2 linked regions of the Homo sapiens genome follow. The protein of the gene in region 1 purifies or fractionates together with the protein of each later gene. This does not show direct contact. Each region holds a gene or a part of one and is shown in the gene's direction. Other genes may lie near its edges.

What was found. Proteins that work in one complex are often made in the same cells at the same time.
Region 2: the proteins of MAN2B1 (region 1) and NENF fractionate together in Homo sapiens (co-fractionation; one large-scale study listed by BioGRID). This does not show direct contact.

The regions. Positions count from the first base shown.
Region 1 is NC_000019.10:12,652,703-12,656,742, reverse strand, and holds part of MAN2B1 (lysosomal alpha-mannosidase isoform 1 precursor), read left to right. Parts: intron 1-55; coding exon 56-172; intron 173-863; coding exon 864-1,049; intron 1,050-4,040. UniProt on the Homo sapiens protein: Necessary for the catabolism of N-linked carbohydrates released during glycoprotein turnover. Cleaves all known types of alpha-mannosidic linkages.
Region 2 is NC_000001.11:212,439,420-212,442,919, forward strand, and holds part of NENF (neudesin precursor), read left to right. Parts: intron 1-3,145; coding exon 3,146-3,206; intron 3,207-3,500. UniProt on the Homo sapiens protein: Acts as a neurotrophic factor in postnatal mature neurons enhancing neuronal survival. Promotes cell proliferation and neurogenesis in undifferentiated neural progenitor cells at the embryonic stage and inhibits differentiation of astrocytes.

The DNA.
Region 1 (4,040 bases):
GGGTTTGGAGAAGGCCTGCTGTGACCCATGCCCTCTCTGACCCCCGCCTCCCCAGTTCCAGGTCATCGTTTATAATCCCCTGGGGCGGAAGGTGAATTGGATGGTACGGCTGCCGGTCAGCGAAGGCGTTTTCGTTGTGAAGGACCCCAATGGCAGGACAGTGCCCAGCGATGTGAGCCCAAACAACGAATATTCCCCCGCTGGGACTCCTCCCCCAGTGGGCATTTCCTCATCGCCCCCATGGATATCGCCTGCTTCCATGAATACCTCCCACTCATGCATATCTCTTCCCCCCTCTTGTATCTTCTCCCTCTGCCCCTTAATATCAGTCTCCCCTTGGGAACATATGCCTCCTGTGAGTGGTCCTCCCTTTTTTTTTTTTTTTTGAGACGGAGTCTCGCTCTGTCACCCAGGCTGGAGTGCAGTGGCGCGATCTTGGCTCACTTCAAACTCCGCCTGCTGGATTATAGGCATGAGCCACCGTGCCTGGCTGGTCCTCCATTTTAATACCCCGCTTCCCCAGGAAAATTTATTGCTGTTTATGGACATCTCCTTCATTCCAGAAAACGTCCTCCCCCAAACCTCTTCCTCCCCCGAGAACCTGCCTCAAGGGTTTCTTCCCCTACTTCCTCCTTCACTCCCCCGACTCCATGGTCTCTCCACCCTCCCGGTGGGTTTTTTTTTCCACCTGGTGAATCTTCTCTGCAATCATTTCCTTGGAATCTGACTGTCCCCCCACCACACACACCTCCATTTCCTTTCCCCATCTCAGGACTCTTTTCCTTCCTTGAGTTTTTTGTCTCCATGCATGTATAGCTTTCCATGGGTACTCTTGACTCAGTTTCCCTCCTCCTTTATCCGAGGTGGTAATATTTCCCAGCTCAGACAGCCAGGCGCACCCTCCGGAGCTGCTGTTCTCAGCCTCACTGCCCGCCCTGGGCTTCAGCACCTATTCAGTAGCCCAGGTGCCTCGCTGGAAGCCCCAGGCCCGCGCACCACAGCCCATCCCCAGAAGATCCTGGTCCCCTGCTTTAACCATCGAAAATGAGGTGAGACCCCATTTCAATCCCCTTTCCTGCTCCTGTGACAAATTTGAAGTGTCATGGTGAGCTGTGTGGACTCTGGGTCAGCAGGTCCCTAGGCTTATGACCTCCTGTCACAACTCCCCTCATTGTGTGTCCTTGAGCAAGTGACCTTTGTCTGAGCCTCAGTGTCCTTTCCTGGGACTGTTATGAGGACCCAGTGTGATCATGGGTGACACTTGACAGACATGTCAGAGTTGGTGGCAGGTGGTGGTTCGCAATTTTGGCAGGGACGTTTCAGGGAAGGTGTTCCCGATAAAGGTGACATTTAAGATATGACCTGAGGGAGGGAGCCGTGTGGCTATTTGAAGGAAGAGAGATCCAGGTGGGGAGAGAATAACAGGCATAAAAGCCTTCGAGCAGGAGAGTGTGCAGAATTCCAGGAGCCACAAGGAGCTCAGTGTGGCTGAAGCAGGGTGAACGGGTGACAGGTCAGACCTTGAGGGCCTTGAGGACCAACAGGAAGACTTTGGCTTTTGCCAGTCATTGTTGCTCATGTGTCTACTCCTAGCTCTTTGGGAGGCTGAAGCGGGAGGATCACTTGAGCCCAGGAGTTGTCCCAGCTAATTGGGAGGCCCAGATGGGAGGTTTGTTTGAGCTGGGGAGTTCGAGGTTGCAGTGAGTAATGATTGTCCCACTGTACTCCATCCTGGCAACAGAGTGAAACCCTGTCTGAAAAGAATAATAATAAAATAGGCCAGGCATCGTGGATTATACCTGTAATTCTAGCACCACGGGAGGCTGAGGTGGGTGGATCTACTGAGCTCAGGAGTTTGAGACCAGCTTGGGCAACATGGTGAAACCCAGTCTCTACAAAAAATTAGCTGGGGGTGGTGGTACACGTCTGTAATCCCAGCTACTTGGGGGCTGAGGAAGGAGGATTGCTTGAGCCCAGGTGGCAGAGGTTGCAGTGAGCCGAGATCATGCCACTGCACTCCAGCCTGGGTGACAAAGTGAGACCCTGTCTCAATAAAATAAAATAAAAGAAGTTCTGCAGTAGGACTGTTCATGTTAGGAAGAAAACATCTTTTTCATATTTTTATTAAAATAAAATAAAAGAAGTTAAAACGTTCCCACAGGCCCCTAAAAGTCTTGTGAGTTCTGGCATTGTGGTTCACACATCAGATGCCCAAGTTGGCCCTGGTCCGCAGCAGAGGAGGGCTTTGATGGGACTTAGGGTATCACAGGTGTGCTCTGGCTGTTGTGGGGAACAGACTGTAGGCAGCCAGTGTGGAAGTGCAGGGACCTGGAAGGGGTTGACTGCACTGGCCCTGGAAGGCCCTGGTAAGAGGTGGTGAGGTTGAAAATAAGGTTGGGGGGGCCGGGCGCGGTGGCTCACACCTGTAATCCCAGCACTTTGGGAGGCCGAGGCAGGCAGATCACGAGGTCAGGAGATGGAGACCATCCTGGCTAACACGGTGAAACCCTGACTCTACAAAAATACAAAAAATTTAGCCAGGCGTGGTGGCGAGCATCTGTAGTCCCAGTTACTCGGGAGGCTGAGGCAGGAGAATGGCGTGAACCCGGAAGGCGGAGCTTGCAGTGACCTGAGATGGCGCCACTGCATTCCAGCCTGGGCAACAGAGTGAGACTCCGTCTCAAAAAAAAAAAAAAGAAAAAAAAAGAAAAAAAGAAAAGGCTGGGGTGGGCACGTTGGCTCATGCCTGTAATCCCAGGACTTTGGGAGGCTGAGGCTGGCAGGTCACCTGAGGTCAGGAGTTTGAGACCAGCCTGGCCAACACAGTGAAACCTCGTCTGTACCAAAAATACAAAAATTAACTGGGCGTGGTGGTACACACTTGTAGTCCTAGCTACTCGGGAGGGAGAGGCAGGAGAATCACTTGAACCCAGGAGGTGGAGGTTGCAGTGAGCCGAGATCATGCCACTGCACTCCAGCCTGGGGGACAGAGCAAGACTCTGTCTCAAAAGCAAACAAAAAAAAAATCAGGTTGAATGGCTGGGTGTGGTGGACTGCTTGAGCCCAGGAGTTGGACACTAGCCCCAGGCAACATAGTGGGACCCCCATCTCTAGAAAACAAATTTAAATTTTTTTTTTTTTAATTTAGTAGAGATGGAGTTTCACTATGTTGGCCAGGCTGGTATCAAACTCCTCACCTCAGGTTATCCACCCAACTTGGTCTCCCAAAGTTCTGGGATTACAGGTGTGAGCCACCACGCTCGGCCCTAAAAAAATTTTAAATTGAGAAAAAAAGGGGCCAGGCGTGTTGGCTCATGCCTGTAATCCCAGCACTTTGGGAGGCTGAGGGGGGGGTGGATCATGAGGTCAGGAGTTCGAGACCAGCATGGCCAATATTGTGAAACCCTGTCTCTAATAAAAATACAAAAATTAGCCAGGTGTGGTGGCATGTGCCTGTAGTCCCAGCTATTCAGGAGGCTGAGTCAGGAGAATTGCTTGAACCCGGGAGGCGGAGGTTGCAGTGAGCCAAGATCACGCCACTTTCTGCACTCCAGCCTGGGCGATAGAGCGAGACTCAGTCTCAAAAAAAAAAAAAAAACAAAAAACCCAGGCCAGGTGCAGTGGCTCACGCCTGTAATCCCAGCCCTTTGGGAGGCCAAGGCGGGTGGATTACCTGAGGTCAGGAGTTGGAGACCAGCCTGACCAACATGGCGAAACCCCGTCTCTACTAAAAATACAAAAATTAGCCAGGCATGGTGGCATGTGCCTGTAATCCCAGCTACCCAGGAGGCTGAGGCAGGAGAATTGCTGGAACCCAGGGGCAGAGGCTGTAGTGAGCAGAGATTGCGCCCCTGCACTCCAGCCTGGGCGACACAGCAAGTTTCTGTCTCAAAAAAAAAAAATAAAAATCCGGCTGGGCACAGTGGCTTATGTCTGTAATCCTAGTACTTTGGGAGGCCAAGGTGAGCAGATCACTTGAGTTCAGGGGTTTGAGACCAGCCTGGCCAACATGGTGAAACCCTGTCTCTACTAAAAATATG
Region 2 (3,500 bases), on another chromosome or scaffold:
TAATCCCAGCTACTCGGGACACTGAGGCAGGAGAAATGCTTGAACCCGGGAGGCGGAGGTTGCGATGAGCCAAGATCATGACATTGCACTCCAGCCTGGGCAACAAGAGTGAAACTCCTTCTCATAAAAAAAAAAGATTGTTTGCCGGGCGTGTTGCCTCATGCCTATAATCCCAACACATTGAGAGGTCAAGGCAGGCAGATTACCTGAGGTCAGGAGTTCTAGACCAGCCTGGCCAACATGGTGAAACCTGTCTCTACTAAATATACAAAAAAAAAAAAAAAAAAAAAATTGGCCAGGCGTGGTGACACACGTCTGTAATCCCAGCTACCCTGGAGGCTGAGGCAGGAGAATAGCTTGAACCTGGGAGGCAGAGGTTGCAGTGAGCCGAGATTGTGCCACTGCACTCCAGCCTGGGCAACCGAGCTAGACTCCGTCCCCCCCCCACAAAAAAAGAAAAGAGTGTTAGTGATAAGATGCATGTTTTTGTTTATCTTATGTATGTGAATGTTATATTTATATGGCTGTTTGCCCATAGAAAATAAGTGTCGGCTGGGCATGGTGGCTTATGCCTGTAATCCCAGCCCTTTGGGAGGCCGAGGCGGGCAGATCACTTGAGGTTAGGAGTTTGAGACCAGCCTGGCCAACATGGTGAAACCCTGTCTCTGCTAAAAATACAAAAATTATCTGGGTATGGTGGCGTGTGCCTGTAATCCCAGCTACTCAGGAGACTGAGGCAGGAGAATCGCTTGAACTGGGGAGGTGGAGGTTGCAGTGAGCCGATATTGTACCACTGCACTCCAGTCTGGGTGACAGAGTAAGACTCTGTCTCAAAAAAAAAAAAAAAGGAAAAAGAAAAGAAGTATCAAGGAGAAAGCCACAGAATGGAAGATATGACAAAATACTGGGGTTAAATGATAGCTGTAATATATTTTTAAAATTGATATAAATACATAATCCCACTTGATAAATAATCAAAGCTGAGGAATAAGGAAACCTGGTAAAGGAAAGGCGGTAAATCATCACAAAGAAAAATGCCGTCTGCTGGCTTGGAAATCCAGGCCGTTTCAAATGACCCGTGTTAGATGAGGTGGAGCAAGTGTCCACAGAGTCAATGGCAGTCCTCTAGGGCCTGTCTTTAGGAGCCGGTTTGGAGTAATAAAAGGCAGCCCTCTGCTGAGCTCCTGTGTCGTGCCTGCTAGGTATTACGTACACTCTTTTCCTCAGCATTCCCGAGGCAAGTGGGCGTTACCCTCATATGACAGGCAGAGAAGCAGGCCTGAGTGGTTATGAGGCAGTGAGGTGTGTTTCCTTGGGCAAGTTGCTTAGCTTCTCTGAGCCTCAGTAGCTCCTCTGTCTGTTAAATGGGATCATGAAAACCCTTCACCATAAGCTGCACAAGCGCAAGAACACTAAGGCCCACCCCAAAGAGAAGGCCAAGCAGCAGGTGCTTGCAGAGCCTGAGATTCCTATGGACCCAGCAGCGACTCCCACCCTCGCCTGGGCTGTGAGCCACCTGGCTGATGCCCCTGCACCTCTGATGGCACTGAGACAAAGGAGAGATCTTGTCTTGGGTGTCTTGGGACTGTACCCATCGTCCCAGCCTGAGCCCAACTTGATGGAAGCTAGAAAAGTCATGCCATCCTTTTTTGTGTAATTCTTTCTTGGTGGGGAAATTCTGAGGTAACATTTTATGCCTGCTAATAGAGCCAAAAAAAAGTGTAAAGCCCATTGTTAGTAGAACGGTGGGGAAACAGCATTGCTTACATATCTCTAGCACTATAAATGTTGTTACAGGACAAACTAATAAAATATAAACAGTGATTAAGTTTTCATATACTTAGGCCCAGGAATTCCATATATTGAAATAGGGCACTTTCCTATGCATTCACTGGGTGGAGAGAAATTTTTAAATAAAGGCCTCAATGAAATAAGTCACCAAATTAGAAAGTAATTGATAGAAACATGTATTCATAATGCTGCCATTTATAGTTCTAAGGATTGGAAACCACCCAAATACCCAAAATAGAAAGCTAGCTAAACAAATAGGTAGACAATATCACTAATATAAGATGGGGCCCTACGCCGGGCATGGTGGCTCACGTCGGTAATCCCAGCACTTTGGGAGGCCTAGGTGGGTGGATCACCTGAGGTCAGGAGTTCGAGACCAGCCTGGCCAACATGATGAAACCCCATCTCTACTAAAAAGACAAAAAATTAGCGGGGCGTGGTGGCGGGTGCCTGTAATCCCAGCTACTCAGGAGGCTGAGTCAGGAGAATCACATGAACCCGGAAGGTGGAGGTTGCAGTGAGCTGACATTGCGCCATTGCACTCCAGCCTGGGCAGCATGAGTGAAACTCTGTCTCAAAAAAAAAGATGGGGCCCCATGGAGCTGTTTAAATGACAGTCATTTTGGTGGAAATGTTTATATGAGGGAATGTTACCTGTAAGAAGCAAAATATAAAATAGATTGCTCATATCAGTCACATCCGTGTATGTCTATTGATGAAGAGGAAAGGAAATTTGGACTGATAAGTAATTCATCATTTACTATTCTTTTGAATTTTCATCTCCATGAAGTTGCTTCTGTTCCTGATTTTCTTTTTTTTGAGACGGAGTCTCACTGTGTCACCCAGGCTGGGGTGCAGTGGCATGATCTTGGTTCACTACGACCTCTGCCTCCAGGGTTCAAGCAATTCTCCAGCCTCAGACTCGCGAGCAGCTGGGATTACAGGCATGTGCCACCATGCCCGGCTAATTTTTGTATTTTTAGTAGAGATAGGGTTTCACCATATTGGCCAGGCTGGTCTTGAACCCCTGACCTCAGGTGATCCGCCCGCCTTGGCCTCCCACAGTGCTGGGATTACAGGCGTGAGTCACTGTGCCTGGCCCCTGATTTTCTCTATAAAGGAGAGAATTGCCACATTCTTGTCATGAGACTTTATGACTTTTCCAAATTTCTGTGTGCGGGCATGACGCTGCCCAGGCAGGTGGCAAGCTCGCCAAGGACCAGGCTTAACAGAAAGCCTTTGGGACTTGACCCACTGCTCTTTGCTCAGCTTGTGATGGGAGAAGATTTTACTAAGTTGCACTGGAAGAGCTGGCTCTTCCCTTCCTCTTCACAGCTTCTCCCCTGCTTTCTAGGAAGATCAGCCCATCTACTTGGCAGTGAAGGGAGTGGTGTTTGATGTCACCTCCGGAAAGGGTAAGTGGTGTGGCATTTTGAATCTTCATTTCCAGGGAGCACAGAAGCCAGAGTGAGCAGCACTTGGAGGTGTGAGGAAAGGGAGGGAACATTAGGCAAGTCCTTTTCATTCCATTTTATTTTATTTTATTTTTTGAGACGGAGTTTCACTCTGTCACCCAGGCTGGAGTGCGGTGGCACGATCTTGGCTCACTGCAACCTCTGCCTTCTGGGTTCAAGCAATTCTCTGCCTCAGCCTCCCGAGTAGCTGGGATTACAGGCACCACCACCACCGCTGGCTAATTTTTTTGTATT